Linked DNA regions of Homo sapiens: regions 1, 2, 4, 5, 6 and 7 are each reported to be linked to region 3. Evidence: microRNA targets listed by miRTarBase, many of them from high-throughput screens and not tested one by one. Region 3 holds a microRNA gene; each other region holds the end of a gene's coding sequence. Distances are between the middles of the regions.
Evidence for each region. Region 3 holds the annotated microRNA hsa-miR-1324 (CCAGACAGAAUUCUAUGCACUUUC, at 1,671-1,694, opposite strand). A microRNA usually pairs through its seed, bases 2 to 8, with sites in the 3' UTR of a target mRNA and lowers its output. Matches are read on the target gene's strand: a 7mer-m8 pairs with bases 2 to 8, a 7mer-A1 pairs with bases 2 to 7 and ends in A, and an 8mer does both.

Region 1 (3,000 bases), not on the chromosome of region 3:
TGACCCTACTCTCCATCTTCGTTAGAGTGATGGAGTCCCTAGAGGGCTTACTAGAGAGCCCATCGCCTGGGACCTCCTGGACCACCAGAAGCCAACTAGCCAACACAGAGCCCACCAAGGGCCTTCCAGACCATCCATCCAGAAGCATGTGATAAGACCTCCTTCCATACTGGCCATATTTTGGAACACTGACCTAGACATGTCCAGATGGGAGTCCCATTCCTAGCAGACAAGCTGAGCACCGTTGTAACCAGAGAACTATTACTAGGCCTTGAAGAACCTGTCTAACTGGATGCTCATTGCCTGGGCAAGGCCTGTTTAGGCCGGTTGCGGTGGCTCATGCCTGTAATCCTAGCACTTTGGGAGGCTGAGGTGGGTGGATCACCTGAGGTCAGGAGTTCGAGACCAGCCTCGCCAACATGGCGAAACCCCATCTCTACTAAAAATACAAAAGTTAGCTGGGTGTGGTGGCAGAGGCCTGTAATCCCAGCTCCTTGGGAGGCTGAGGCGGGAGAATTGCTTGAACCCGGGGACGGAGGTTGCAGTGAGCCGAGATCGCACTGCTGTACCCAGCCTGGGCCACAGTGCAAGACTCCATCTCAAAAAAAAAAGAAAAGAAAAAGCCTGTTTAATGCACAGGTGTGAGTGGATTGCTTATGGCTATGAGATAGGTTGATCTCGCCCTTACCCCGGGGTCTGGTGTATGCTGTGCTTTCCTCAGCAGTATGGCTCTGACATCTCTTAGATGTCCCAACTTCAGCTGTTGGGAGATGGTGATATTTTCAACCCTACTTCCTAAACATCTGTCTGGGGTTCCTTTAGTCTTGAATGTCTTATGCTCAATTATTTGGTGTTGAGCCTCTCTTCCACAAGAGCTCCTCCATGTTTGGATAGCAGTTGAAGAGGTTGTGTGGGTGGGCTGTTGGGAGTGAGGATGGAGTGTTCAGTGCCCATTTCTCATTTTACATTTTAAAGTCGTTCCTCCAACATAGTGTGTATTGGTCTGAAGGGGGTGGTGGGATGCCAAAGCCTGCTCAAGTTATGGACATTGTGGCCACCATGTGGCTTAAATGATTTTTTCTAACTAATAAAGTGGAATATATATTTCTACTGTGTGTCATGTTGACTTCTGCTCTTGAAATTCGTGGTAGGGAGGGTCTTAATTTCTAGACCTGAGGTTTAATTTTAACATCTCAATACTTTGGAGCAGGAAAGTGCTTAAATCACTTTGTTTAAAACATAGTATCAGTAGACTTCTGAATTTGGGGGCAGAGGCAGTTGGGTCTGCCATGTATCAACCAGTTATGTGAGCCTAGGCCACGATTATTGCAGGCCTGTCATGACTAGATCTGTAAAGAAGAAGAAAAATGATCACCACTTCCAGCCCCTCTCCTTGAGTCTCTGGGGCAAAGAGGACTATCAGTCCAGGAGGCTGTGGGCTTTTTCTTTTGTACTCTTCAGCGTGTTTTACTTACCCACCAAAAAGGCTGCTTAATTCAGATTGTTCTCAAAGTCAGTTGGTAAAGTGTCCACACCACACAGATGATTATATCTGCTCTCCCAGATCTAAGCAACTTGGCCTTTACTCAAAAGTTGGAGGGGTTTTTTTTTCTTGTATCCATCACTCTTGTACTTCCTGTCCCACGTACAATTGTATTCACTCCTTTGCCCTTCAGAATATATTTATTTACACTCCCATCTGGGCGTGTGCATCATTTTATTAACTTGACTGACTTTTGCTAAAGCGCAACAATGAAGTACAGTGTCTTCTGTTAAGCCAGTTTTGCTTCCTGAGTGTTCTTAAAATGTCACTACCCTAGAAGCCTGTGGGTTAAGCATCACTTTCATTTATTGCACAGTGGTTGTCACTAGTGTTATTTATCAAGTATTTCCAGTTTCCCACCTTTCGGGTACATGGTAAATTGGTCCCCTTGTGGCTGGCAGGGTTTATATGACTGTTACTTTGTTAGCATAGTACTACTCTCAAAAGTCTATTTGGCTTTTTCTCTGGTTTCAGTTTCATGTGCCAGTAGTTACCCTCTTCTAGTCATATTTCTTATATTTGATATATTTTCTCATTCTCATGCTTCTAATTTGGGGTATTTTTGAACCTTCAATTGGAGAGCCTGCACCTTAAGTCTCTCCTCCAAGTGGCTTAGTTTAATTGAAGTGATCTGTGTGCCACCACCCCCTTGTGGTTGGATGGAGCCATGTCATTAGTTCTGGCCAATGAGCTGTGAGTGGTAGTGGCTTGCGTTAATTCTACGTGAGAGCATTTCAGTGCTGGAGAAACCTGCGAGGACCTCTTTTTCCCTCTGTGCAGTGACCAGCAGTGCTTCCTATGGAACTGTTCATTAGTGTAGGTCCTGGAATGAGGATGCATGGCGCAGGGCCCTTAATCTGTCCAATCTGACTGTGATGTGGGAGAGACTTCTAGACATGTTGCTTTCTCTAGGGTATGTTCTTATATTTCCCATTACCCCCCACCCCCTGCAAAAGGACTGGGCCTGTTTTGGGAAGGTGACTGATACCCGCACTGTAGCACAGGAATTGTGCTACTGATATCTGGGGGTTTTGTTAACTGAAGTGTAACTTAGCTTATCCTGATTGGTACATTGTGTACAGCACCTATTGGATGCCAGGCATCAGCTAATACCTCATCGCTACCTGCCTCAGATGTACACAAGGTATTGGGAGGAAGGCATGTGAACAAATAATGTGTCATGGTTTTGTGATAGAAATACGTATACAGGATAGTGGGTATATAAAGTTATTTGTAGGCAGGAGAGGGGTGTTCAGGAAAAGCTTCTTAGAGGATCTCAATTTTTTAAAAATGCGTAGGTTGTAGGCTGCTGGCCAACTTAGGAAAAGGTGTCTCAGCGGAGGGAACAACGGGAGCAAAGGCATGGAGATGAGCCTATGCACAGCTCATTTAGAAAACTGCAAGTTCAGGCCAGGTGCAGTGCCTCACGCCTGTAATCCCAGCACTTTGGGAGGCCG
Region 2 (4,544 bases), not on the chromosome of region 3:
TATCTCCAGGACAGCCCGGGCCTCAGCTGGCCCCGTGTTCAAGGGCGTCTGTAAGCAGTTCTCACGCTCACAGGGCCATGGCTTCATCACCCCCGAGAACGGGTCCGAGGACATCTTCGTACATGTGTCTGAGTGAGTCCCCTCCACCTCCCTGTTCTTGGCCCCTGCCCTAGTGTCCCCAATGGTGCCTCAAAAATGGCTCTCCAGGCCTCTCCTCTCACTGGCTGAGGTCTGTATTCATGGTGCCTTTTCTGTCCTCTGAGTAGGGGCTGAGGGTGCGTTGGGAGAGGAGGGCTGGGGCCAGGGAGGGAGTGGGCACGCAGACCCCAGAAGCCTGGGAGCCAGCGGCTGGGCCCTGGATCCTGTTACAGCATCGTGGAGGTCTGAGAGGGCTAGGCCAGCTCCTGAGCCTCTTGGCCTGGAAAGGGCCTTCATGTGGGTGGGCCAGGAGGTAGAGATGGATATCATGTCTAGGCCTGGCCCCACCCACTTCTAATGCCAGGAGGACCGGGGGAGGTCACTGAGCTTCTCAGAGCTTTAGGGACCTCCCCGTGCCCTTTCACATCTCGGTCCCCAAGGGACCCAGAAAGGGAGGTACAGTTTATGAGTCCCATTTTATTTTATTTTATTTATTTTTTGAGAGGGAGTCTCGCTCTGTCGCCCAGGCTGGAGTGCAATGGCACAATCTCGGCTCAGTGCAACCTCCACTTCCTGGGTTCAAGCGATTCTCCCACCTCAGCCTCCCAAGTAGCTGGAATTACAGGTGCCAGCCACCATGCCTGGCTAATTTTTGTACTTTTAGTAGAGCCAGGGTTTCGCCATGTTGGCCAGGTTGGTGTCAAACTCCTGACTCAGGTGATCCGCCCGCCTCAGACTCCCAAAGTGCTGGGATTACAGGCGTGAGCCACTGTGCCCAGCCATGAGTCCCGTTTTACAGATTCGAGAGCTGAGGTTCTGAGAAGCAAGGCCTGGCCAGGCCTCCTGGCCTAGGGAGGCTTAGGGCCAGGCTGCCCCCAAGGCCAGGCCACAGGATTGTCTGGGGCACAGGGCCTGCTGCTGGGCTAATACCCCTCTTCCTGCCCGCCAGCATCGAGGGGGAGTACGTGCCAGTGGAGGGCGACGAGGTGACCTACAAGATGTGCCCTATCCCTCCCAAGAACCAGAAGTTCCAGGCCGTGGAGGTGGTGCTCACTCAGCTGGCCCCCCACACTCCCCACGAGACGTGGTCTGGCCAGGTCGTGGGCTCCTAGGCTGAGTGGTTCACAGGCCAGCTGGCCGGGGGTTGGGGAGCCACACAGGGTGAACGGGCAGCAGCCGGCTCCATGCCCCACTGCCCTGGCTGATGAGTCCTTCGGTGGCCTCAGTGTGCACGTCTGTCTGTCCGTCTGTGCTTGTGGCTATGAGCGTGTGCCTCCACCCACCCCACGACCCGTGACTACTGTGCAAGCTGGCCAGGAGGTAGGTGGAGGGCAAGGCCACCAGACCTGGCTTCGCGCTGTCCACTGCCTCTCTCCTCCCCTCCCTGCCGCAGACACGCAGGACCCGCTCGCCCTCCTGCTTACCCGTCCCCACGGTGACTGAGCTGCGAGAGCCTGCGCTGGGCTCACTCCCTGGCCTCCGCCCCTGAGCTGTCCCGTGTCAGTCCCTGGCCCGGAGCCAGGCTCTCTGTGCTACTTACATCTCCCTCCCTTGGCTGAGGTCCCCCGCCACAGCCTGGACCCTTCCCTCAGAAGCCTGGCCGATGGGTGCTTTTGGGGAGCCTCTCAGCCTCTGGCAGGGGAGGAGGACTGACACGGAGGCACACAGGCCTCTCACTGCCGAGGCCAGCCTTCCTTCCTGCTCTGCTCTCTCAGTGCCATGGAGAGGCAGGAAGAGGGGCCTGAGGGCGGAAGGGGTTTGGGGCTCCCATTTCGCCGGCCAGTCCCTCCTCCTCAGCCTGGCAGTGGCGCTGGGCTCCTTCCCCTGGGCTGTACTGAGCCGAGCCCAGGGGTTTGCAGAGGGTGGGGGTCCATCTCTCCAGCTTGGCTGCAGACCTCCTTTACCCTGACTCACAAGCCCCACTGATGCTCTGGGCCATGCCCGGCTGACGGCTGCTGTGGATGCCGCGAGGGACGGACACACGTCCGGGGCACCCACGAGGAGGGCCCCCAGCCTGGGAGACTGGCCCTGCGGCCTCCACGTCAAACTCTCTTCCCAAAGCCCTAACAGACCAGTGGCCGAGGTGTGGCTCTTATTGCATCCATCCCTGAAGATGTGTGGCTGTTGCTGTCACCTGGAGTCCTTTTGGGGCCAAGATGTGTGTGCACCCGGGGTCGTGGCCATTCACTCCCAGGCAGGGGTGAGGGTGGCCTGGCCCAGGAGGCCAGGAAGGAGGGCCCTGTCTGCCTCCACCTCTGGGTGCACCCCCTGCCTACCACCCTCCCTTCTAGAGAGCACATCGCCTGACCGGGGAGAAGTGGGGCCGTGGTTCGAGGGAGGGCTGGCCAGGGGTGGGACCCTTATGAGACTCAGTCTGTGAGTAAAACTGGGGGCTCAAATGCCCAGGATGAGGGGATCAGTGACTGTCTAGGAGGATCCCTTGCCTTGTAGGTGCCCCAAGACCGCAGGGTAGAAATCAGCCGGGATGCCTGCATCCCACCCCCGGCCCCAGGGCCCACCACATAAAATCTGGGAGCCCAGAGCTGCTGAGGTGTGGTCAGCTCCCCTAAAATGGGCACGGCCCAGCCTGTCCCATGAGGAATAAAGGCCCCTGGCCCCCTTGAGAGAGGGCTTGTTGGTGAGGGCTGACTCCTGGGGGCCCCCAAGGCTCCCCTCCTGTGGGGAGGCCACCTTTTAAGGCACCACTAGCAGTCAGGATATGGTGGCATCAGCCCTGGGGCCTCCTGGGTGGCAGGGGGGCAGCAGCTCTCCTCCCCACTCACAGGCCCTGCAGTGCTCATTTGGAATTCCTCCCAAGACCCCTGGCCACCCAGACCCCCCATTCTTCCTAACACTGGCAATAAACCCTCAACTGTGACCCACCGTGGCCTGAAGCTGCCTCTGTGTCAGGGTCCCCAAGGAAGGGGCTGGGGGTGGACACACCAAACCAGCTCTTCTTTGGGGATTCAATGGCCCCCTCCTCGACTGCATCAGACTTCCTTTGTGACCTGGGCCAAGTCCCTGCCCTCTCTGTGCTGTTTACTTGTCGGCAAAGTAGTGGCTGTGACAGCATGTGACTGGGGCCAATTATCCATTCAGACACAGCTGACACCTACTTTGTTCTGGGAACTTTAATACTGTGACAAAGTTCTCTAAAATAGGCACCTTCCCCACCGTACCTCATCGCCCAGGGCAGGCAGGCAGGGCAGGCTAGATCTCGTACCGATACTTGAGCACGCCTCCTCCTGGTGCAGAAAGAAACCTCTTCTGTACCGAAATACAAGCAGCAGCTGTGGCCTGGGCCACCAGGTGGAGCATGGGGAACACTCTGGGCCCTGGGAGGACGAAGCCAGTGCCACTAGGAGCAGACTGGCTGGGGACGGTTGTCCACACAGACTCTGGCCCCATCTGGGTGGGCTTGCAGCAGGCGTCCTGGGCCAGAGGAGGGGCCCTGGCATCTATCCAACACCAGGACCTCTCTTTAGGCCTAGGCCAAACTCTTCAGAAGTCACGACACACAGATGTGGGCCCCGGTCACGCCTCATGAGCTGTCTCTGGGAAGAAAATCTCCCGGCATCGCTGCACCGTGTCCTGAGGAGACACCACGCTGTGGCCAACAGTCCGGGGGTCGGCAAAGATCTCAAAGTCGTTCCCACCCTGCACACAGAGGATGGGCAGAGGAGGGATATTTAGGTGGAGTCCCTCTCCACATTGGCTGCTACGGACCTGCCCCTCCTCCTGCCCCTTCAGAACTGCCAGGAAGCCCACCTTCTCACCCCTTGTCAGACCTGCCCTGACTTGCTGTGTGATGTAGAACAAGTGCCCAGCCTCTTGGGGCCCCAGCTTTCCAATCTGTGTAACGGGGCTGGTGAGCAATGGTTGTTCTCCAGGAGCCCCCTAAGAGGTCTGTTGTGTTGCCCCATGTTCTGGCCTTGACCTCAGGTGATTTGCATTGGAGAAGCCACCAGACCTGGCTTCTCACTGTCCACTGCGTTAGGGGAAACCTGGGGTGGGCCACACTCACAGGGCTAGTCTCGTTCCCAAAGAAGTGGATGGTGTCGAAGCTGTCCTGGTCCAGGCTATCCAGGCAGTAGCGCTTGTCCCAGCCCTCGGGGAAGACGTCAAAGCTGATCATGCCTCCTGTGGGCAGGGGTGGGGACTGTTATTCCCTGCTGGGAGGGGCAGACAAGGCTAACAGAAGGGCTGCTTGTTCATTCATTCATTCAACAACCCTTGAGTGCCTACTGAGGGCCAGGAATAGGACACGGGACAGACTTAGGATCCTCAAGGAAGTTATGACACAGGTTGGAGAATGAACAAGACCATGAAGTGGGTGGGGGAAGCTCATCCGGCCAGGGTGATCAGGGGAGACCTCTGAGGAGGTGGCAATGAGCTGGGACCTGAGC
Region 3 (4,544 bases):
GAGGTCACGTGATGGTCACAGAGGATGACAGCTCCCATGAGTATTCTCAGGCACTGTGTTAGCTTCTCACTCACAGAGTCTCAGAATGCCTCCTCACCAATACCCTGTGAGGGAAGGCCCCACCTCACTAGAGCACAAGAGGTTCCTGAGCTCTTCCCAGAAAATGGTTATCAAAGGGTGGAGCTGGGGGAAGCCCAGACAGAACAAGTGAGTCCCCAGGGTCTCCTTAACCTCCCTCAGCTCCTCCACATGCGGCCCTGAGGGAAAGTGAGCGGCCTCCTAACCCCTTTGATAGGGTTCCAGTACTGCAGGTCTGGACTTCCTTATTTTCTGGAATCATAGGAGGTGACAATGCAAACCCAGGCCCCTTATTTGCCATCCCTCAATGCCAGGCCAGGCCCAGAGCCCTGTGCTGACACAGCCCAGGGGATGCTCGAAACCCACCTCAGCACAGTCACCAATAGCATAGTGAGATGAGCAAGGAGGTGCAAGTAGGCACAAATCCCCATGGACATGGCCTCAGGCATGTTCCACAGGCTCAGGGTCTCCCTGATGAGCTCCCAGCCCTCCTTCAGGGAGCCTGCAGAGCACACCCCCAGGGAGCAGTGCTCAGATGAGCAGGCAGACCCCAGATCCCCCACCCCAGGATGCTCTGTTCCACTTTGCAGGGCTGCTGCATTCGCCAGTCCCCACTGCTTTCTGGTGGGATGTTTGAGTTGAAGTGAATGTTGAAGGGCATACAGCTGACGGAGCTGACTGCCTTGCAGAAGTTGTAAATCACCTCCTGGCTCCACGGGTCAGCTGTGGAGACACAGCTTGATTGGAGGTAGCCCCCCTCTACCATCAGTGGTGCTGGGCTGCCCTGATCTGCACCTTCCAGCTCCTTGCTGAGATGTCTTCATGCTTCTCTAAGGGACTGGGTCACGAGACACCCCTGGGAAGGCCCAGCTGGCAGAATAGGCTGGACACTCTCCCTCAGCCTCCCCAGCAGCCCGGCCTGTGCTGTCACCTGTGCTGATGATCTCACTTCTCTATCTTAATAACAGCACTGATAACTTTTAAGCCCTAGCAAGCTGAAACTGCAAGACAAATGATCTTCTGCCTTAGAAGGGCTATGGTTGGGCAGTGTGTGCCCAGGTGAGAGCCCTGTGGTTGTTAGTAGAAATAGGGAGCTGGATGGGCCTGGCCCCATAGCCTAGTGGAAAGTAGGGCCCTCTCCTTCCAGAGCATCAAAGTCTTAGAGGCTAGAAAAAGGTGCTTGGGTGGGCTGCCAAGAAGCAGAAGGCTAGAAGGCTTTGCAAGGAACCCCAACAGACTTCAAGGTGCCTGAGAGGGCTGGGCTTATTCCAGCTTTCTTTGCTTTCATCCTGTTAGCAAGAAAACCTGCTCACAGATGGCAGGTGGGCCTGAGGCTGCCAGTCACTCACCAGGGGCTATAGGTGCCTTGATTGTGGCTGTTTCTTGAAGCAGCTGCTCAGGCCGGTTATTGCAGAGCAGTTCCCTCATTATCCACAGGTCCTTGTTCCAGCCCTGGCTCTGCAAAGGGACTAGGGAGGGACTAGGCAAGGGCTCAGCCTGTGCCCCACAACCTGCTCTGAGATATCTCTTTTGTTACTTCCTCATGGACAGCCTCAAACTTCCAAATGAACAGACCAGCATGGAGCCTCCAGGAAAGTGCATAGAATTCTGTCTGGTACCCAGAGGGAAGGGGGTTCCCAGTGAGGGCAGGACCAGGCTTCATGCACCTCTTCAGGAATGTTCTCCTCATAGTCCAGCCTCAAGGTGTGCATCCTCTGTGTGCATGGAGTCCATGGCAGGCTCTGCCTGGGGAGCCGTCCAGCTGCACACCTGCAATGTGGTGGTGACCCTCTTGAATGGGTGGTTCTGGGCCCCATGGCTGGCAGCAGAGAGGGAGATGTTCAGCCACCAAGCCCAGAGCCCTGCCACAGGCTTCTGTGAGGCCTCCATCTGCTCTGGGTTCTTGCCCTGAGAGGCTGCCCTGAAGTCAGACAGAAGCAGGTGGGCCTCTCTTCCAGGGCTGCTCTCTCCCCCACTGACAGCTCCCTAGAGGGCGACTCAGACAGTGGGGACAGATTCTTCAGGCAGAAGCACTGGAGTTTAGGCTGGCCGGTTCATTCCATACCCCCACATGACATGACACAAGGCAGAGGCTGTGGGACAAAGGCATTGCCTTTTCTTCTGGCATGAGGAACGGCTTAGGAAGCAGGGGATGGTGGGGCTGGGGTTGAGTGATGGGCTGTGGGCCACAAGGAGTGGGTGGGCACTGAGCAAGTGTCCTGGTTGTCTGTCCACAGACCCAGAACGAGTGGCATCCCAGGAGCCTGTGAGGGGCTGGCAGAGACTTACTGGTTCCAGTAAAAGCCCCATGTGGATGCAGTAATGCTGCCTGCTGGTCCTTGGCTGTAATTACAAACAGGTACAAGAGGTACCCATGCTTCTTGAAGCTCTCAGGGAGTGGGTTCCAGCTGCTCATGGTAGGCACTTTTAGTCACTGAACGTGCTTCAGGTATGTCCAAGTTTGATTAAGCCAGGCATCTTGCTGTGAGGCCCTCCACTTCACTAAGGACACTCTTCCTTTCTCCCCCTGGAAGTTGGACCTTCCAGTTCTGGTTCTGGAGACACGATGGCCCCCCCTGGACCTATATTATCCTGGCTCCTATATTTACTGTCCCAGTTCTAGTATCAGACATTTCTTCAAAGAGCCTGATTCCTTTCAGAATGGTAGGAAAACTTGCATCTGGCTGCTGAATGAGCACATTGTATCTTGTCCCTCATTGGCAATGCTAGGAAGTATATGTGTGTGTCTAACCTACCTATACACACCTAATTATAAAGTTTTCTATGTAGAACTGTGTGTATCTATATTAAACTAAACATAAGTTTACATTGATGTCTCCACCTCTGATCTACTATCACATGAATCATTCTAGCCTTCTCGCCTTGCTAATTTGTAACCTCCCACTTCAACAGTGAGAAACCTGGTTCCCACCATCTGTGACTTATGTAAGTCATTGTTTTATTCCAGATACAGACACCGTGGTTTTACAATTGTTCACAATTGCTTCTGTTGGAAAGAACTTTATAAAATGGAATCCAATGATGAAGTATAGTTCATTTGCCATCAGCCTACAGATTCTATTCATTTTCAAAGTTACTTAGGTCAACACCATTTTCCCTACACCTTCAGTGAGTTTTTACCTACATTTGTGTCTTAGTCCATTTTGTGCTTCTGTAACAGAATACCTGAGGCTGCATAATTTATAAGTAAAAAAGGTTCATTTGGCTCACAATACTGGTGGCTGGGATGTCTGAGATTGGGCAGTTGCATCTGGTGGGGCCTCAGTCTTTTTCACCTCATGGTGGAAAGTGGAAGGGGAGCAAGGGGTGCACCAGAGATCACATAGCAAAAGTGAAAGCAAGAGGGAAGCCAAGGAAGCCAGACTCTTTTTAATTACCTAGTCCTGCAGGAATTATCTATTCCTGTGAGAACAGAACTCACTCACCCCCATGGAGGACATTAATCTATTCATGAAGGATCCGTCCCCACGACCCAAACACTGTCCACTAGGCCCCACCACCCCACACTGACACAGTGGGGGTTAAATTTCAACATGAGCTTTTGCGGGGACAAACCACATCCAAACCATAGTAATTTGTAGCATAAATTCTTTTTCACATGATGTATTCTGTCCTGGGATACTCCACATCCTGAGTAATTTTATTTAATTTGAATAGAGTTTGCTTTAACCATTTGCCTGTAAAATTCTGCATATTTTGAAAAATGCATTGTGGCAGATATCCCACTATTAAAGTATCATATGGAATGCTTCAAACCCCCACCCCATGGAGCCAATGGCTTCCCATCTGTGTAGTTTGCCTTCTCCAGTGTCTCATTAAATGAGGTCACACTGTGTGTATCCTCCTCAGACTGTCTTCTTCCACTTAGCAATGTGCATGTAAGATTCACTCATGTCTTTGTGTGAGTTGATAGCTTGTTCCTTTGTATGGCTAAATAGTATTCCATTACATGAATGTACCACAATTTGGTTATGCATTTTGGGGAGCAGAACCTTCCTTTTCTAACTTTGTTCCAGGGTTGGAGACCTTAAAATTAACTGACAATAGATGCATTAGTAGGAGAGACAATACTTGGCTTCTTGTTCCCCAAGTATCATTGTGGGACAAAATTCATCAGATGGCAGGATCCAGTTCGCAAAGAGGTAAAAATAGTCAAGAAACAAGAAACAAGACTAGAATCTGATAACCCACAATGGCTATAGTTTTCCTTTAAAAAAATTTTTTTTGAGACAGGGTCTGGCTCTTTCACCCAGACTGGAGTGCAAAGGTGCAATCTCAGCTCACTGCAACCTCTACCTCCTGGGTGCAAATGATCCTCCCTCCTCAGCCTCCTGATTACCTGGGACTACAGGCACACGCCATCATGCCCATCTAATTTTTGTATTTTTGGTAGAGACAAGATTTCACCATGTTGCCCAGGCTGATGTTGAACTCCTGGCCTCCCA
Region 4 (4,544 bases), not on the chromosome of region 3:
TTACAAAAAACACTGAAAAATAATGAATGCATCTGATAATGCAATTATAAAAATAATCAGAATTAAAATGATACAGCCCTATTAATTTCATAATTTATAAAAATAAGATGCCTTTCTTAGTGTGGGATGGTGTAGTATAGAAAAGTATAGCCTATCTGAAGCAAGGAGTATGATAGAAAACATGATATTCCTTCTATAAATGCATGTCTACTCATTTATCGAACTTTGCTCTATAGGTTTGGGCATAATTAAGAATCAGGTAAAAAAAAAATCAGGAATAGATTCATTATTCCTTTTTGGGGTGGGGTCAGGGAGGGGACAGGGTCTTGCTCTGTCACCCAGGCTGGAGCACATACAGTGTCGTGATCTTGGCTCATTGCAGCCTCGACTTCCTGAGCTCAAGTGATCCTCCCAACTCTGCCTCCCAAGTAGCTGGGATTACAGGCATGTGCTATCACGCCCAGTTAGATTTTGTTTGTTTGTTTTTGAGATGGAGTCTTGCTCTGTTGTTGCCCGGGCTGGAGTACAGTGGCGCAATCTCAGCTCCCTGCAACCTTCGCCTCCCGGGTTCAAGTGATTCTCCTGCCTCAGCCTCCTGGGTAGCTGGGATTACAGGTGTGTGCCACCTTGCCCAGCTAATTTTTGTATTTTTAGTAGAGACACGGTTTCACCGTGTTCGTCAGGCTGATCTCGAATTCCCGACCTCGTGATCCACCTGCCTTGGCCTCCCAAAGTGCTCAGATTACAGGAGTGAGCCCCTGCACCCAGCCAAATTGTACTTCCTAATAGGTGCAATTTCCAGCAGCTTTTGACCAATATTTTTTCCTTTTTCACTGCTAAAAGTACAGATTATCATCCAGGTACCATTGAAATGCAGTTGCTGTCTGAGCTATTCAGCCGTATCTTTGGCAGATGTCTAGTGTTATTCATCACTCCTGTAACGACCTTAGCAAAAGATTGTACATGATTCACACAACTTGTCCTTGAGAGATTTTTCAAAGTTGAGCTGAGTTGTGAGGAAGTATTCTAAACCTTGCTGTCCTGAAGTATAGTTCATAGACCAGCAGCATTGGCATCACCTGGAAGTTTGTTTAGAACAGAAACTCAGGCGACATCTCAGACCTAAGGAAGCAAAATCTGCATTTTAATAACATCTCCAGTTGATGTATATATATTAAAGGTGGTAAAGCACTGGTCTAAAACAATCTTGGTGGAAATGAAATGTTTTTTTCTCTGTCTTCTTTCAGGTCTTTGTTGAGTATGCAAATGCTGGTGATTCCAAAGCTGCGCAGAAATTACTGACTGGAAGGATGTTTGATGGGAAGTTTGTTGTGGCTACATTCTACCCGCTGAGTGCCTACAAGAGGGGATATCTGTATCAAACCTTGCTTTAATCAGTAACCTAAGGACTGTTTCCTTTTTCTCCTCTTCCATTTCTTGGGTTATTCCACATATGAATGCAGGACTACCCCCTTACCATTTTAAGAAGGTACTTTATACATTTATTTAATCCTACTAATGTGCAGCCATTGCCCAAGCAGTGACTGCGTTGCATACATTTGGCACTGAGTAGGACAAGACCTCTCAGCTATACATTGAGGGGTTTTAGAGCATCCATGTGGGCAACCCTTTTTTGTGCGGGAGAGCAGGTGTTGCTCTTCAGTATGTAGCCTAAAAAAATCTTAATTATTTCATGGATCATGAAGCAAGGATGAATAATATCATGTCTTGGTAAATACTAACAAATTTGTTAGGTTTGGTGACATCATTTACAGATTATTTCTTTATGTTGTCCAGTGGTTCTTCCTTATTGTTGATATCCATAAGCTGGCACTGGATGCTCTCAGTAATGTTAAGTAATTGTCAAGCAGCAGTTACCTACTGTGTTCTTAACACTGAGTTGTGAATTTTTTCTTAAAGCAGTACTGTAGTACTGAATATTCCTTTAAAGGAACTGCAGTGAGCCTATCTAAGTTTTTTTAAATTAAGGCTTTTAAAATAGAAAGCTGATGCTTGATCTTGCACAATTTTTATGTCTAGTATGTATGCTTGAGTGAATGTGCGAGTATGAATGATTAGAGAAAATTTGAGTCAGTGTACTTTATAGTGTGAATCCTGTGAGCTAATACAGTCTATACTTATTTCTTCCCTACCTGTTTCACATCCGTAAGATTTAAGATATACATTTTTTGAGAGGTAGTCTGTCTGATACAATGTAAATGACAAAACATAATTCCTGAGAGGCCCAGAACAAACTGGAGTCTAGCCTGGAGTTAAATTGAGACTTCTAAAATGATTGGAACAAAGACTAAGTTGTGCCAGATGTAAATCAACCCCTCTTTTAGTTTACTTTAGACTTTGTATTAGCTCATCTTTTTTGTAGTAAATCTATAGTTTTAAGGTTTCTCAAGATGTGGCTCTACCTACTATGATGAAAATTGAAGTGGGTCAAAAGAATTAGATGTACAGTGAAGGGAAAAGAAAAAAAATGGGCGAAGAGAGGGTGGAAAATAAAAGGATTCTTTTTTCTTCCTTTCTGTTTCTCGTATCCCTGCTCCCTTTTTCCTCCCCTTCCCTCATTCTTTGCCTCTATCCTTAGCTGAAGACAAACTAGAGGAGCAGCATCCCAGGTAGTTTGGCTTTTGACTGCAAGGTAGTTAAGAAAGGTGTAGATATAATGAGGTAGAAGTAGAAAGGAAGAAAAACTCAAAGAATTCTTAAAAGGATTCATAGCAACATAATGTGTCCCTGAGTAGAGGATGCTGCTATGCGTGAGTTCATGGACACAAGTTGATTACATGGTTTTTAGAATTATAATTATGGATTCTTCTTATTTCATGGTAGGTTGTCTTTAAAGATATAAAAATTAGGATGCCTTTATGAAGCACTGATTATACCAAAAAAAAAAGACAAGTTATATACAGGTTATTAATTTTTTTATTTATTTATTTTTTCCTAAGGAAAAAGTCTTCTATCTTTCCCTGCTGGAAGCCTCCTCATATTTCCTTATGTTTGCCATGCAGGTTGCTGAGAGTCCAGTTAGAATTTGCATTTTACAGAATGAAATACTTTACCCCATTCAAACAATTATTGTTTGACATTTTAGTTATTTATAATTGTCAAATTCAGGACTCTCCTTTAATGTTTATTATGAAACCAAATTTGGCATAAGGAGGCTGATTTATGAATTACCAAAGGGTCTTGTGGCATGTTCCCCAATACATGCCCTTAGAAGGAAGAACTATTATTTTTTATTTTGGCCCTTTCAGGAGTTGATTATAAATTGGTTTGTTTTCAAGTCAGAATTCAAGTGGGCAGAACCCGTATTGTGAAGACCTAAACTTTCCTAAATGTTCATATGGGTAGCAGATTTTGTGGTGATTAGAAACATCAGGTCCTTAAATACGATGAACATGGGATACAAAGGAATTCTTTATAAGGGCAAGTATCCTAAGTTAGCACATTTACTTTTCTCTCCCCTCCGCCCCCAAAAGAAAAATCCTTACAAATAAACTGCAGGTAGGCTTCTAAGCCTAGTCCTGCAGTATGCTGCTAACATCTTGATGCCAATCTTCACAGCATTCTTTGATTGTCATCTTATTGCTGATACATTCATACATATATTTAGTGCTTGACACTGTAGAATTTTGTTACAGAAGATGGTTACTAGATTTTAAGGGAGCTGAGGGAATAATTGATGAGCCTTGAATTAACCATGCATTTAATTAGATTTTTTGTTGTTGTTGTTGTTGTTTTGAGATGATGTCTTGCTCTGTTGCCCAGGCTGGAGTGCAGTGGCTCAATCTCGGCTCACTGCAACCTCTGCCTCGCAGGTTTGAGCGATTCTCCTGTCTCAGCCTCCCCAGTAGCTGGGTTTACAGGCGCTTGCCACCACACCTGGCTAGATGTTTTATATTAAAGCCAGAGAATTGAAAAAGAAATGCCTCCTGTGATTGAAATTATTTTATAGCTCTTAGCCCGTTCTACCAAAGATCACATTAGCAGATTACCCCTCCCTCCTGTGATATTATCTTTCTTAAACCTGAACCAAATATCAAAAGATACAAGTTTCATGATTAGGATGAAATATATACATAGGGATTTTGGTTTATTGAAGTTATTGAAAGACCTAGAAATTTTCTTTTTGAGAGAAAGGGTAAAGAGGTGAGGGTTCATGTCACTTAACCCCTACCCTTTTGGGCAAATTTTGTCTCAGGTAGTGTTTCATTCCCTAAATTAATACCTGTGCTTCCTTGCCTCTCACCTTCCCAGTTACTTCTTTGGGGTATTACTGTGGCACATTGTACACCCAGAAAAGGCACATACAGTGATTATTTTGTGGGAAATACTTGATTCTTTTGAAATATATTTGGAGGGGGTAGCTAGCTAGCCACTGTCAAAACTAATGCTGTATTTACAGGACAAAAACAAGTAGAGTTGGACACCTCAGTAAGAGACAGCATTAACTAAAAGTACTGACTGCCTTTTAAAGGAATTTTTAAAACTATTCTCTTGCAATAAGAGATCCGCATTTATTACCACTG
Region 5 (3,000 bases), not on the chromosome of region 3:
TGGGAGGCGGAAGTATGCTGGGGACAGAGGTGGGGTCTGAGAGCCAAAGGATCCACCCCACAGATGCTGCCCTCCTCCTCCTCTTCCTCCTGCCTCCCTGGAGGCAGCAGCTCACCCATGGGTGTGCCCTGAGGCTTTCTCTTGGTGTCTGTCCCATCCAGAGTCCGAGTGCCGGGGGGACCCTGTCCGGGACTTTCACCAGGTCCAGAGGGGCTATGCCATCTGCCAGACCACGCGCCCCCTGTCATGGGTGGAGTGCCGGGGCTCGTGCCCAGGCCAGGGCTGCTGCCAGGGCCTTCGGCTGAAGCGGAGGAAGTTCACCTTTGAGTGCAGCGATGGGACCTCTTTTGCCGAGGAGGTGGAAAAGCCCACCAAGTGTGGCTGTGCCCTCTGCGCATAGCGCTGGGCGTGGACAGGCCGGTGAGGGCGGGCAAGGGGCCCCAGCCGCTGCAGCAGCGGAGACAGTCGCCAGCAGCTGGGCTGGGGTGCAGGTCATCACAGGACGGCTCCTGGGCAGCTGGGCCCTCCTGGGTGGGGTGGTGCCAGAGCAGCCTTTTAAAAGCAAATTGCGCCATAGCTGGGGGCAGCGGGGGTGGGCGAGGCCTGAGCTGCGGGCTGCCCTCTCCGGAAGTGCCTTGCACAAATAGGCGCTTAATAAATATTTGTTGAGTGAATGTGTGCGTGAGGTCAGGCCAAGAAGTGCAGAACGATGACACCCCTCCTTACCTGCTATCTGAATCTGGAGAAGAAAAATGACAGCCTTCCAAACCAACCCTTCCCTTTGGCCTGTGGCCCAGGCTGGCTTGGAACTGGGTCTGTGGCCCCAGAAGCCTCTTACCCCTCTGCGGGCAACCATGAAGTACTGTCAGCCTCCCCGGGAAGCCAGCCTGGTTCATTCTGCTGCTACAGAATCTGCTGGTGGTAGGCCAGGCTCTGGAGCGGGGGTGCCGCCTCCTGCTGGCCAGGGAGGGTCGGACCCTTGCCCCCTGGGCTGACTGGCAGCTCTGCAGCCACGGCTTGGGAACGAGGCTGTGGGTGGAGGTGGTTCTTAGGACCAGGCCTCTGAATCCTAAAGTTCTAGCATGACTACTGTAGCTGCGAGGGCTTATGTGGAGGAAACAGTCACAGGGGCTGCTCAGGGTGGCAGACCCCACTAAAGAGGGCAGAGGGTTCTTTGCTCTAGATAAACAAACATCATCTGCCTCCAGACACTGGCCACAGTAGGAGTATTGGTCCTGGGCTTCCCCAGCCACCAGTCAGCCACAAGCTGTCGGTGACCTATTGGTAGAGGGACTGGGTGTGAGGGTCTGGGCCAGGGTGCTTGACCTGGGAGCAGCTGGTTCAGAGTCCTTCACACCGCAGGCCAGTAGGGAGCAGTGGAAGGGACAGTGCTCCAGGCATTGGGAAGTCCCTGCTGGCTCTATCACTCGGGGCAAACTTCTCCCCACCTGGGCCTTGGGTTCTTCAGCTATAAAATGGCCAGAGGTGGGGGGCGGGATGACTAAAGGAACAGTGCAGACTCCCCCACTGTGGTCTTGGGAGGCCAGAGGAGTTAGAAGACCTATCTATCTATCTATCTATCTACATTGATCACATCAAAAGTATTTATGTGCCTAACCCGGGGCTGGGGATTGTGGACGTTCTGGCCTAATGGACAGATGTGAACTCATCCCAGAGCATCGCAGGAATGACCAGGATGCCCGGGAAGAGTTGAGCTGAGTGGGGGCTCCAGCCACAGACAGCGGCCCAGGCCAGGGAGTTGCTGGCAACGAAGGAGCCAGTGGTGGAAGAAGAAGAGGCCCTGAATATACGATTGCCTGCCCACGTTGTCTTCTCTTCCATACACAGTGAAAATGTAGAAAGATGGTTTGTGAGGCCAAACTGTGAATGGGCTAAAGGGAGGCAAAGTTGCACTCTCCTTCCCCAGAGGGCTCACCAAGAGGGCACACCCCCGGGGGTTCTGGTGGGCAACGGGGGTGAGCATGTCCCTGCCCTGGCTCCCTCCATCTGTGACCAGGAGGCATGGCTGGGTGTATGTTCAGGTGAGGCTCAGAGTGGCATTGTGTCCCTGTCCCCTGCCCAGGGCAGTGAGGGGAGCCCTTGATGCTGATTAGAAGGCTAGAACTGGGGTAGAGGTGCCTGGCATGTCTCATGCCATGGGGACTCAATCTAGCAACTGTGAGTCCTGGGGTCCCTGTGATGGGAAGAGGGCAGTGCCCTGCCCAATGTGGCAGGTGTCCTCATGGCAGGATCTGCCCCTCACCAGGGGGCTGGGATCTACTTGCTTGGAGCTCTGAGCAAGGCCACAATGCCCGCCCCCACCCCCAAGTAGACTGCAGCCTGGGCCTCATGGGGCTTCTCCCAGGCCCACATGGCATCCCTCTCTGAGTTTCCAGGCCACCGTGGGACCCTGCAGAGCATCTGCACCGGGCTGGATAGGGCAGAAAAGCTCAAGGGCAGCTAGCTTGCCTCTTCCCTGGAAGAAAGGTGCTCTGGGACTCACCAACCCTGAGAAAGATAGCTTTCCTGGCCACCACCATTCCCCACCACCCTGGAGAAGCCAATTCCCAGGCTTGAAGGGCACTGGCTGGCAGGAGGCCTCTTCATTCTGCAGGAGGTGGAAAGGACACCTGTAGACAGGTGATGCTCACCCCTCACCTGGCGCCATGGGGCTGGGAGGTGAGCGGCTGGCATGTTTGTTCCTAGGGAGCACCATGTGAGCTTAAGGCTCCCCTGACCGGCCCCACCACATGGCCCAGCCTCCTAGCACAGCAGCGCTGACCTCAGTGCAGTCTGAGGATTGGAATCCACCATGAGATGATGTGAGAGCTGTGTGCCCCAGGATCAACTTTTTCTCCAACTTGGCCATCAGCCAGCGAGTTGCTAAGGACCTGAGTCAGCACTCACGTTGCCTATTCACACTCCGCTTGAAAGTCCGGAAGGTGGCTACTGCAAAATCACCCCTCTGAGAAGTCCTCTCTCCACATCTTGTCCCCCTTT
Region 6 (4,544 bases), 17 Mb from region 3:
TTTTCTTCACTGCAGCATCCCCAAGCCTGCCGGACTCTTGATGCATATCAGGTTTGCTGAGTGATGAAAATCTTGGCGATAAAGACCCAACTCTTTACAGCTTGAGCTGACCTGGGGGTCCCTATAGTGGCCACAATGTCCTGAAAATGACGTTGAGAGTCTGACAGGTGTTTGCCACTTTTGTAACACCCACCCAAGAGGGGCCTAGTGTGGCTGGCTCGAGAATGCAGTCTCCTTGATGGGTTATGGGGGTACAATGATGGCTACTTGGGCTTATCTTCTGACTTATTCTGGGCATCTGAGGAAGGAGTGGGAAGCTGGAGTGGGGCATGATCCCTAATCTTTGCCTTGTGTTCCCTGGTGTGGAACAGCACGTTGCCTCTTCCATGGGCTCCACATGGCAGTGGCAAGTGCAGCTCCCCCACTCTGAGCTCTTTCTCCTTGAGAACTGATCCCTTTTATGACAACAATTCCTGCAGACCTGGAGGTCTTATCTCCCAGCCCAGGCTCAGGCTCAGTCCCATCCAGCTGGCCATGCCCACCACCTCTCTTAGGATGGGTACCCCAGGATCCCACTTCGGGATAGGGATTGTCGTGTAGGTGATTTGTTAAGGACTGGCCCCTGGGGACACTGGTAAGGGAGTGGAGGAGCAGGATGGGAAAGGGGAAAGAGGTAAGCAAAGGGACACTTTCAGGCAAAGTCCCAGTTCCCGCCTGATCCCTCTGGGAATCCTGGAGTGTAAATTGCACCTCGTGGTCGTCATCATGCCCCAAAATAAAGAGCTGGCCTTTCACGTTCCCATACCTGCCAGTCATTAGCTAAGGACCATCCTGGGGTGGTGTACACACCCCCAGCTTCCTGGTCTGTCTTCTTTGCACTTGTGCTCAAAGAATGTATGAGTAGCCCAAGGGCAATTCTCCAAAGAAGAGTTCAGACTGACCATTAGTAACAAAATCTGGGAAAGGGCACCTGGGACGCTTCCCTGAATTCTCTGATTGAGCCAGTTGACATGTTCTCAGTCTTCTTTGAAGTGTTGTGCAGTGCAGTTTCTGGAAAAGTCCATGTGTCTTCTCTTCAATGAGGCAGCTACCCCATGTCTTAAAATAGTGGCCACTGCCAAGAGCCCTCTGCCTAGCCCTGGTCCCTGCTCATGAGCTCATTTTAGAGGTCTTTATATGTTCTTTAAAAATTTTACAAGGTACTCCTGCTTGTTGTAAAGTGAAATTTCCGAGCTCTCAAAGGTGTTTATGGTCATCATGAAAATTTCATGCCACCTTCATTCCCAGAGCAGGTTTCTGGGCAGATGTTTTTCCAGGTAGTCTACTGATGTGGTTGGAAGTGGTTATTCAGGCCTGCCAGCATGCTCCCGCTTTCATCCGTGAGGGTGAGCTGGGGTGGGTTGGGCAGGGAGTGACAGAATTGACAGGATGTCTGGATGGGCACCTTCTGACTTCCTCAGCCAACCCTGAGCACGGCTCCCCGCCGGCTCTTTGAATTTTTTTTTTTTTTTTTTAGATGGAGTCTCGCTCTGTCACCCAGGCTGGAGTGCAGTGGTGCAATCTCGGCTCACTGCAATCCCCGCCTCCCAGGTTCAAGCGATTCTCCTGCCTCAGCCTCCCAAGTAGCTGGGATTACAGGTCAGTGCCACCATACCTGGCTAACTTTTATATGTCGGCCAGGCTGGTCTTAAACTCCTTGCCTCAGTTGATCCGCCCACCTCGGCCTCCCAAAGTGCTGGGGTTATAGGCGTGAGCCACCGCACCTGGCCTGGACCTTGATTTTGATATCACTGCAATTGTAGCCCGTGTCCCACCTGCCGTGGCCCCTGGTGGAAGGTTCACACACACTATTGTCTCTACCCCAGGCTATCTTGGCACATTTGAAGTGCTCCCTGGCCCCAGGACTTGGGAGCTGTGAGTCTCAGACCACTGGTGGGCATCTGTGCTTGGGCAGAGGGTTTCTTCTCCATGAGGTGTAGTGTCCCCAGCACATGCTCCAGGAGGCTGAGTAGCAATGCTTTCTGCCCCCACGACCTCCTTTCAAGACTTAGTCTAGAGCCTGGGAACTGGGCCCTTCTCAGAAACCTCAGGCAGGTCTTGACACCGTATCCTTGGGCCTTCCCATTTCAATGTGCTCCTGCCATTGCAGCTGGCATTGCCATCTCTTGGCTGGGGGCTTGCTGTGAAGCCACAGAGGGCCACTCTTCCCTAGGCAGGGCAGACAAGAAGCACCTAGGAATTCATATCATCCCCAACACCAGAAGCCCTCAACAAACCACTAGTGGGAGTCGGTGTGTAAATACCCCAGCTCCCTCACTCCCGGGTGGAGTATCTCCAAGGTGCATGTTCTACCCCGATTCCTAGAGCTTCGGGTGGGAGTCAGCTCCAGTCCCCACAGGGGTAGCTGGGTTGAAACCATACCCTTCACTGGCTGCCTTCCCCTCCTTCCCTTTGCCATCTCACTTCCCTACTTCTCTATTGGTGTTTCCCACAATCACCTCCCAAATATACTGGCTGCCCTTGAGTCCTTGTCTCAGGGTCCGCTCCTGGGGCGGAGACAGCCCGGCTGCCTTCCCTGAAGCCTGCAGCACAGCCTGGCGGCTCCTTCCAGCCAGGTTCAGATGTGCCCCTCCTCTCCCACTCCTGCTCTGGACTTGCTCCAGCTCTCCTTCAGACAGAGGGTGATGACAGTATTTCTTGCATCCTGTCCCTAGCTCCCTCTGTTCCTGTCCATCCCACATGTTATGCAGGAACTGAGGATTCTCTCAGGCCCATGGGAAATCCTAGAAACACAGCTCCCTCCCAGCTGCCTAAGGGGGAGCCTGAAGCTGTCACAGACCTGTCTGAACCCATGGCCCATGCTGAGTCTGGAGCAGTTCAATCCCAGGGAGAAACGTGGCCACTGGAGTGGTCAGAAAGCTCATTCAAAACCAGCAAAAATAAAATTTAATTGGGCTCAAGTCTGGGCAGTTTGTCCTTCCTCAGGACCAGCCGTCAGCAGTCCCTGACGAAAGCACCCCATTCTCTCCACAGACAGCTGGTTCCAGAAGGACCCTCTGAGGCTGGTCTTCCGGGTAGGATGTGCTGTGGGAGGGTTCTGTTTCCGAGGAGGAGAGGCGCGACACAGCGTGCAAGGACCTGCAGCACCTTCCACGCAGCACCCCCTGCTCCTCCTCCTCAGCCCCTGCCGGGCTCTGACTCCTAAGTCAGGCAGGAGCTTCTTCAGGCCCCTGGCTGAGGAAGAGCCACAGCCACCCTAAAATGGCTTCGGGGGCATGCAGCCCTCCATCTCCAGCAGCTCTGGCCATCCCTCGTATTTGTTTGTGTCTGGGCTGTTCTTTAAGAACTAGAGAGAGAGAAGACAGAGAAATATAGGCAGTGAGTGAGGCTGTTCAGAACTCATGCCCACATGGACACTGTGCTCTAAACCTAAATGGGGGTGTGGGATGTTATTAACCCACTTCACAGATGGGGAAACTGAGGCTCAGAGAGGGGATGCAACTTGCTCAAGATCTCAGAGATGGGATCAGAGCCCAGTTAACTGCTCTCACGCCCTGAAGGGTAACCAGTTGTTGGAGAGATCTGGCCCCTCCCCACAAATTCTCTGTGTCCCTCTAGGATACCTCAAATAACAATAATGATAGCAACAATAAAAAGAAGACTCCGACCATGTCTTGAGCGCTTGCTGTATGCCACGTGGTGTTCTGCAGGGCCTTATGTATTTAATCTGCACAGTGGCCCTAGGGAGTGTGCACTGTTTACATCCCATTCTACAGATGGGGAAGCTGAGGCACAGAGGGTCACTGCCCGTAGTCACTGGCTGGTAAGTGGCAGAACCACCACATAATATTAATTAATACTAATAATAAGGGGTGGGGTGCAGTGGCTCACACCTATCATCCCAGCACTTTGGGAGGGTAAGGAAGGAGGGTCACTTGAGGCCAGGAGTTCAAGACCAGCCTGGGCAACATGGGAGACCCTGTCTCTAGAAAACATAAAAAAATTAGCTGGATGTGGTGGCACATGCCTGTGGTCCCAGCTACTCAGGAGGCAGAGGCGGGAGGATCGCTTGAGCCCAGGAGGTCGAGGCTGCAGTGAGCCGAGATTGTGCCACTGCACTCCAGCCTAGGTGACAGAGCGAGACCCTATCTCTAAAATATATATATACTAGTAATAAGTATGTAAGAAGAATAAAATCACTTAGGATTGTGTCTAAAATGCTCAGGTTTGGATTATGAAAGAAAAAAACGTAAATGGCAAAATCTGCTGTTGGAATCATTGTGGCTGACTCTCAGGAATTAAAAAAGAGATTCTAGATGCTACCTGCCTAAAACCCAGTTTCCCAAGTGTGAGGACTAAGAACAGACCGGCTTAGTCCCATTAGGGTGCTTGGTTCATTTTTGTGTGTCGGTCCCGGCCAGCTGGTTGCAGATGGATGAAGATGATGCTGGGCTTCCTGTACTCCCACGCCTCCTCTGTCTTGCCGGTTCCCCTGGGTCTGGAGCCCACGCTTTGGGGCAGGAAAGCACCACCTGCCCATGCAG
Region 7 (4,544 bases), not on the chromosome of region 3:
TGGGCCTGAGACAACTTCAAGGAGTGAGGGTGGCAAAAGATGAGGCCAGAGAGATAGGTGGGTGCTGGATTAGGGAATGAACTAGAAGCTACATAAAGGATTGGGGGCTTTATGCAAAGGTCTCTGAGAAGCCATGGAATCATTTTAAGCACGGGCGTAACATGATCAGGTCTGTGTTTTAAAAAGATCACTCTGGCGGGGCGTGGTGGCTCACGCCTGTAATCCCAGCACTTTGGGAGGCCGAGGCGGGCGGATCACGAGGTCAGGAGATCGAGACCATCCTGGCTAACACGGTGAAACCTCGTCTCTACTAAAAATACAAAAAATTAGCCGGGCGTGGTGGCAGGCGCCTGTAGTACCAGCTACTTGGGAGGCTGAGGCAGGAGAATGGCATGAACCCAGGAGGCGGAGCTTGCAATGAGCCGAGACTGCACCACTGCAGTCCAGCTTGGGCCACAGAGCAAGACTCCATCTCAAAAAAAAAAAAAAAAAAAGATCACTCTGACTGTTGCTCAAGGAAGGCTCATGGGGTAGCAGTGGAAGCAGGGGGCACATTTTGGAGGCTGATCAGATGAGGATGGCTTGAGTTGGGGAAGCACCAGTGAAGATGGAGAAGCTGGAGGTGTTTGTGATCTATTTCCCAGGGGTGTTGCAGACAGGACCTGTTGATGGGTTATGTGAAGGGTGGGTGGTCAGGGAAGGAAGGCATCTTTGAGCAGAGACCTGGGGGCGTTGAGGGAGTGAACCATGTGGGTATGATGTGTGGGGCAAATGTTTTCAAGGGGAGGGCACAGCAAGTGTGAAAAAGAAAGAGGGGATGTGTTAGTCCATTTTCGGCTGCTATGAAGGAATACCTGAGGCTGGGGAATTAATAAAGAAAACAGGTTTATTTGGTTCATGGTTATACAGGCTGTCCAAGAAACATGGCACCAGCATCTGCTTTTGGTGAGGGCTTCGGGCTACTTCCATTCATGGTGGAGGGGGAAGGAGAGTGTATTAGTCCGTTTTCATGCTGCTGATAAAGACATACCTAAGACTGGGTAATTTATAAAGAAAAAAACGTTTAGTGGACTCACAGTTCCATGTGGCTGGGGAGGCCTCACAATCAGGGTGGAAGGTGAAAGCCACGTCTTACATGGTGGCAGACAAGAGAGAATGAGAGCCAAATGAAAAGGGAAACCCTTTATAAAACCATCAGCTCTCGTGAGACGTATTCACTATCATGAGAACAGTATGGGGGAAACCACCCCCATGATTCAATTATCTCCCACCAGGGTCCTCTCATATTATGGGAGCTACAATTCAAGATGAGATTTGGGTAGGGACACAGCCAAACCATATTAGAGAGCCAGCATTTCACATGAGAGGGAGCAAAAGAGAGGGGAAGTGTTCTATGCCCTTTTAAACAATCAACTGTCCTGTGAATTAATAGAGGTGGGACTGAGAGCCTGAATAGAGGGGGTTTAAAGAGACTAGGTTGGAACAAGATGCCAGCCAGAAGCTAAGGGGACAGTGTCCAGGCTGAGGAGCAGGGCTGGCAATCCAAGCAGGGTCTCTGAACCACAGCCAAGAGATCTGGGGAGCAGAGCAGAGCTTCAGACCCCAGGAGGAGAATCTGAAGTACAAAAAAGACAACTTAGAAAGAAGGAAAAGTCTAGAACATGAACCTGGAGAGCCAGATGGGGAGGAAGGCTACAGCTGGAGTGAACTCTGGTGCCAGGCTCAGGGCAGCAAGACTGATGGCAGATGCTTCCGTTGGTGGGGAGAGGACTTAGCTTACATTGTTAGGCTCAGACGGGCTGACCATGACAGGAGGGGAATGAAACCAGCCATGCAGGTCTTCCGTGCTCACAGCTGACCAGAGCGGTGGTTCTCGACCCTGACTGTACATTTCAAAAATCTGGGAAGCTTTTCAAAAAATACAGTGTTCTGCCCCCAGCCTCAAAGCATCCCTATTCATTTTTCTCCAATGGAGCTGGCCCCATTTTCAAACATCTTCCCAGATGACTGTGTTGTGCAGGCAGCGCTGAGAACTGCTGTTCTCCACTTCAGCTTATTCCTGTGTTTGGGACTGAGCCAGTGTGGGAGGCACCTTGAGATAACGGGAGCTATAGAGATAGTCAGCCCTGGCATCTGAGGGCAATGACTGCTGTAAGCACTGAAGGAATTTGTTGACTTTCCCCAGAAGAGCAATCCTCATAACACTGACCAAAATGAACATCCTGATTAATTATGCAGGTTTATAGCTCCCCAGAGGCTGCAGAAAAACATCATTTGGCACCAGAAACAAACTTTATTCTGGCAATGCAGGATAATTTTACAAACATTAGATACTGAATTGTGCATATATCTCTGGAATTTCAATGTACTACATCCATAGAATGCAGAAAAACAAGGTCAGGGCCAATTTCTCACGCTGCCACCTGGACCAAGCAGTTCCAGGAATCCTCTGGGTTCTCTCAGCCCTCTTGTTCCAGATTTCAGTGGTGTCCTGGGCAGATGTGGTTTTTGTCTGGATTTCTCTCTTTGGGGAAATGCTTCTAACCCATTATATGCAGTTTGGATGGGCTGTCAGTGACAACAGGTAACCCCACCTCTGTCTGTGGGGATGTGGTCCAGGACTAGCCAGTCCTGGCAACAGTGATTGGCTCAAGAGGTAGACATGGAATTCAAAAGAGGCCCATAAGCATTGTTTTTTAGGTTTAATATATGGATAATGGCAAAGTTCTCTCCTGAAGATATAAAGCTGGAAAATGAGTCTGGGTTTATCATTTGTCATTGTCCACACACTGTGTGGGTAAATGAAGAAGATTGCTAGAGAGAGAGGAAAACCTAGGGATGAGAGAGAGGAAGACAGAGGGGAGACTGAGAGAGAGAGAGAGAGAGAGGGGCAGAGAGAGGCAGAGAGACAGAGAAGAGAGAGAAGCAGAGAGGGGGAGACAGACAGAGAGAGAGAAGAGAGACAGAAACTGAGACAGAAAGGAGACAGGCCAGGCGTGGTGGCTCACGCCTGTAATCTCAGCATTTGGGAGGCTGAGGCCGGTGGATCACTTGAGACCAGGAGTTCGTGACCAGCCTGGCCAACATAGTGAAACCCTGTCTTTACTAAAACGCAAAAATTAGCTGGACTTGGTGGCACATGCCTATAATCCCAGCTACTCAGGAGGCTGAGGCGTGAGAATCGCTTGAACCTGGGAGGTGGGGGTTTCAGTGAGCTGAGATAGCACCACTGCACTCCAGCCTGGGCTACAGAGTGAAACTCCATCTCAAAAAAAAGAAAAAGAGAGAGAGAGAGAGAGAGAGAGAGAGAGACAGACAGAGATAGGGGAGAGAAAGAAAGAAGGGGGAAAGACAGAGACAGATGGAGGTGGGGGAGAGAGATAAGGAGAGAGGCAGAGAAGGAGAGAGAGAGTTCTGGCAATGCAATGCCTAGTTCCAGGCCTCCCGACTCTGGTACCTCAGTCTTGTGAGCTCTCCCTGCAGCCTTTAAGGGTTAAGCCCTTTGGAGCTGGGTTTGTGTCCCTGGCGACAGAAGGCATTTTGACTAGGGCAGAAGGTTTCTTGTCGACCTCATGGGAGGCCAGACGTGCGGGGTATGCACTGGAGAGTGAGGCAGGCATGGTCAAAGAGCTTGTGCGGCAGCTGTCCCTGGGATGTCCAGGTGTCCGTCTCGGGGTCGTAGCAATCGAAGGAGGCGGAGTCCTCAATGTTGCAGTCCGTGGTCAGCCGCCGCCCGCCCGTCACGTAGAGTTTGTTTCCCATCACTGTGGCCCCATGGTGCATCCTCCGGTCTTTCATGTCCGCACATTTGACAAATTTGTTGGATTGAGGGTCATAAGCAAGAATCCTCCTTGTGTAACCTGAAAACCAAATGACACATGGGCAAGCTCAGTGTTGCTCATCTGGGACTGGAGGTCAGCAGTCCTGGGACGCGTCTGACTCCTGCCACTGCGTAAGGCTGAGGCTGGGGCTCTGAACTAGCACGTGGGATGTTGAGCTAACCTGCCAAGGCCTGCTTTGTGGCAGAGTGGGGGCTGGCACGCAAATCTGCCTGACTCTGACCTTCACCCCAAGTTAAGGCAGCATATAAGCCATTCTTAGATTGGGAGCGGCCTCCTGATTCCTGTAACTTTCTCAGCCTCATTGGCCTCTTCCTCTCTCAAATGCCCACTCAAGAACTATGACAATCCTTTGGAAACTCAGAAGTGGGTTCCCCACACCAGTCCTATCTGGTAGTTACTTTTAGGATCCTCGTTTTATGGATGGACAAACTGAGGCACAGAAAGATGTTTAACTTGCTAAAAAGTATATAGCCAGTTAGTGACAGAGCCAGGATTTGAGCCCAGTTCCATCTGACCCCAATACCAGTCCTCTTAACCATGACACTATGATTTGATTACAGAGAAACAAACTATTAGTAGCTAATATTATAAGCAGAAGCAAACATGTTTTATTTACCGTGTATCTGGGATAGTGCTAAGTGCTTTAGATACACGAGTACATTAATTATCACGACAGCTCTGTGAGATAGGTATTATTTCATC

Region 1: miRTarBase lists HILPDA as a target of hsa-miR-1324. Seed matches in the 3' UTR shown: 7mer-m8 at 804-810.
Region 2: miRTarBase lists CSDC2 as a target of hsa-miR-1324. Seed matches in the 3' UTR shown: 7mer-m8 at 1,374-1,380 and 7mer-m8 at 2,378-2,384.
Region 4: the mRNA of UHMK1 is a reported target of hsa-miR-1324. Seed matches in the 3' UTR shown: 8mer at 2,202-2,209.
Region 5: miRTarBase lists SLIT1 as a target of hsa-miR-1324. The part of its 3' UTR that is shown has no 7-base or 8-base seed match.
Region 6: miRTarBase lists FAM3D as a target of hsa-miR-1324. Seed matches in the 3' UTR shown: 7mer-m8 at 3,031-3,037.
Region 7: the mRNA of KLHL38 is a reported target of hsa-miR-1324. Seed matches in the 3' UTR shown: 7mer-m8 at 3,313-3,319 and 7mer-m8 at 2,941-2,947.

Annotation. Positions count from the first base shown.
Region 1 is chr7:128,457,309-128,460,308 of GRCh38, forward strand. It overlaps HILPDA (hypoxia inducible lipid droplet associated), which reads left to right. Exons shown (of 2, transcript NM_013332.4): 2 at 1-1,110. The coding sequence ends at 152. It also overlaps the pseudogene EFCAB3P1. Among named protein-coding and RNA genes, the nearest start is that of HILPDA, 2.9 kb to the left of the region's middle. RefSeq lists an enhancer at 2,067-2,361.
Region 2 is chr22:41,573,646-41,578,189 of GRCh38, forward strand. CSDC2 (cold shock domain containing C2) reads left to right here. Exons shown (of 4, transcript NM_014460.4): 3 at 10-132; 4 at 1,088-3,021. The coding sequence ends at 1,250. It overlaps PMM1 (phosphomannomutase 1), which reads right to left. Exons shown (of 8, transcript NM_002676.3): 7 at 4,163-4,278; 8 at 3,255-3,795. The coding sequence ends at 3,673. Among named protein-coding and RNA genes, the nearest start is that of PMM1, 14 kb to the right of the region's middle.
Region 3 is chr3:75,627,973-75,632,516 of GRCh38, reverse strand. It overlaps MIR1324 (microRNA 1324), which reads right to left and starts at 1,754; the gene lies at 1,659-1,754. It also overlaps the pseudogene CLUHP10.
Region 4 is chr1:162,521,157-162,525,700 of GRCh38, forward strand. UHMK1 (U2AF homology motif kinase 1) reads left to right here. Exons shown (of 8, transcript NM_175866.5): 8 at 1,248-4,544. The coding sequence ends at 1,394. Among named protein-coding and RNA genes, the nearest start is that of UHMK1, 26 kb to the left of the region's middle.
Region 5 is chr10:96,998,512-97,001,511 of GRCh38, reverse strand. It overlaps SLIT1 (slit guidance ligand 1), which reads left to right. Exons shown (of 37, transcript NM_003061.3): 37 at 162-3,000. The coding sequence ends at 400. Among named protein-coding and RNA genes, the nearest start is that of SLIT1-AS1, 100 kb to the left of the region's middle.
Region 6 is chr3:58,631,023-58,635,566 of GRCh38, forward strand. FAM3D (FAM3 metabolism regulating signaling molecule D) reads right to left here. Exons shown (of 10, transcript NM_138805.3): 10 at 2,924-3,346. The coding sequence ends at 3,257. FAM3D-AS1 (FAM3D antisense RNA 1) reads left to right here. Exons shown (of 4, transcript NR_134853.1): 3 at 1,517-1,638; 4 at 3,034-3,418. Among named protein-coding and RNA genes, the nearest start is that of FAM3D-AS1, 26 kb to the left of the region's middle.
Region 7 is chr8:123,642,169-123,646,712 of GRCh38, forward strand. KLHL38 (kelch like family member 38) reads right to left here. Exons shown (of 4, transcript NM_001081675.3): 4 at 2,274-3,860. The coding sequence ends at 3,571. Among named protein-coding and RNA genes, the nearest start is that of KLHL38, 9.4 kb to the right of the region's middle.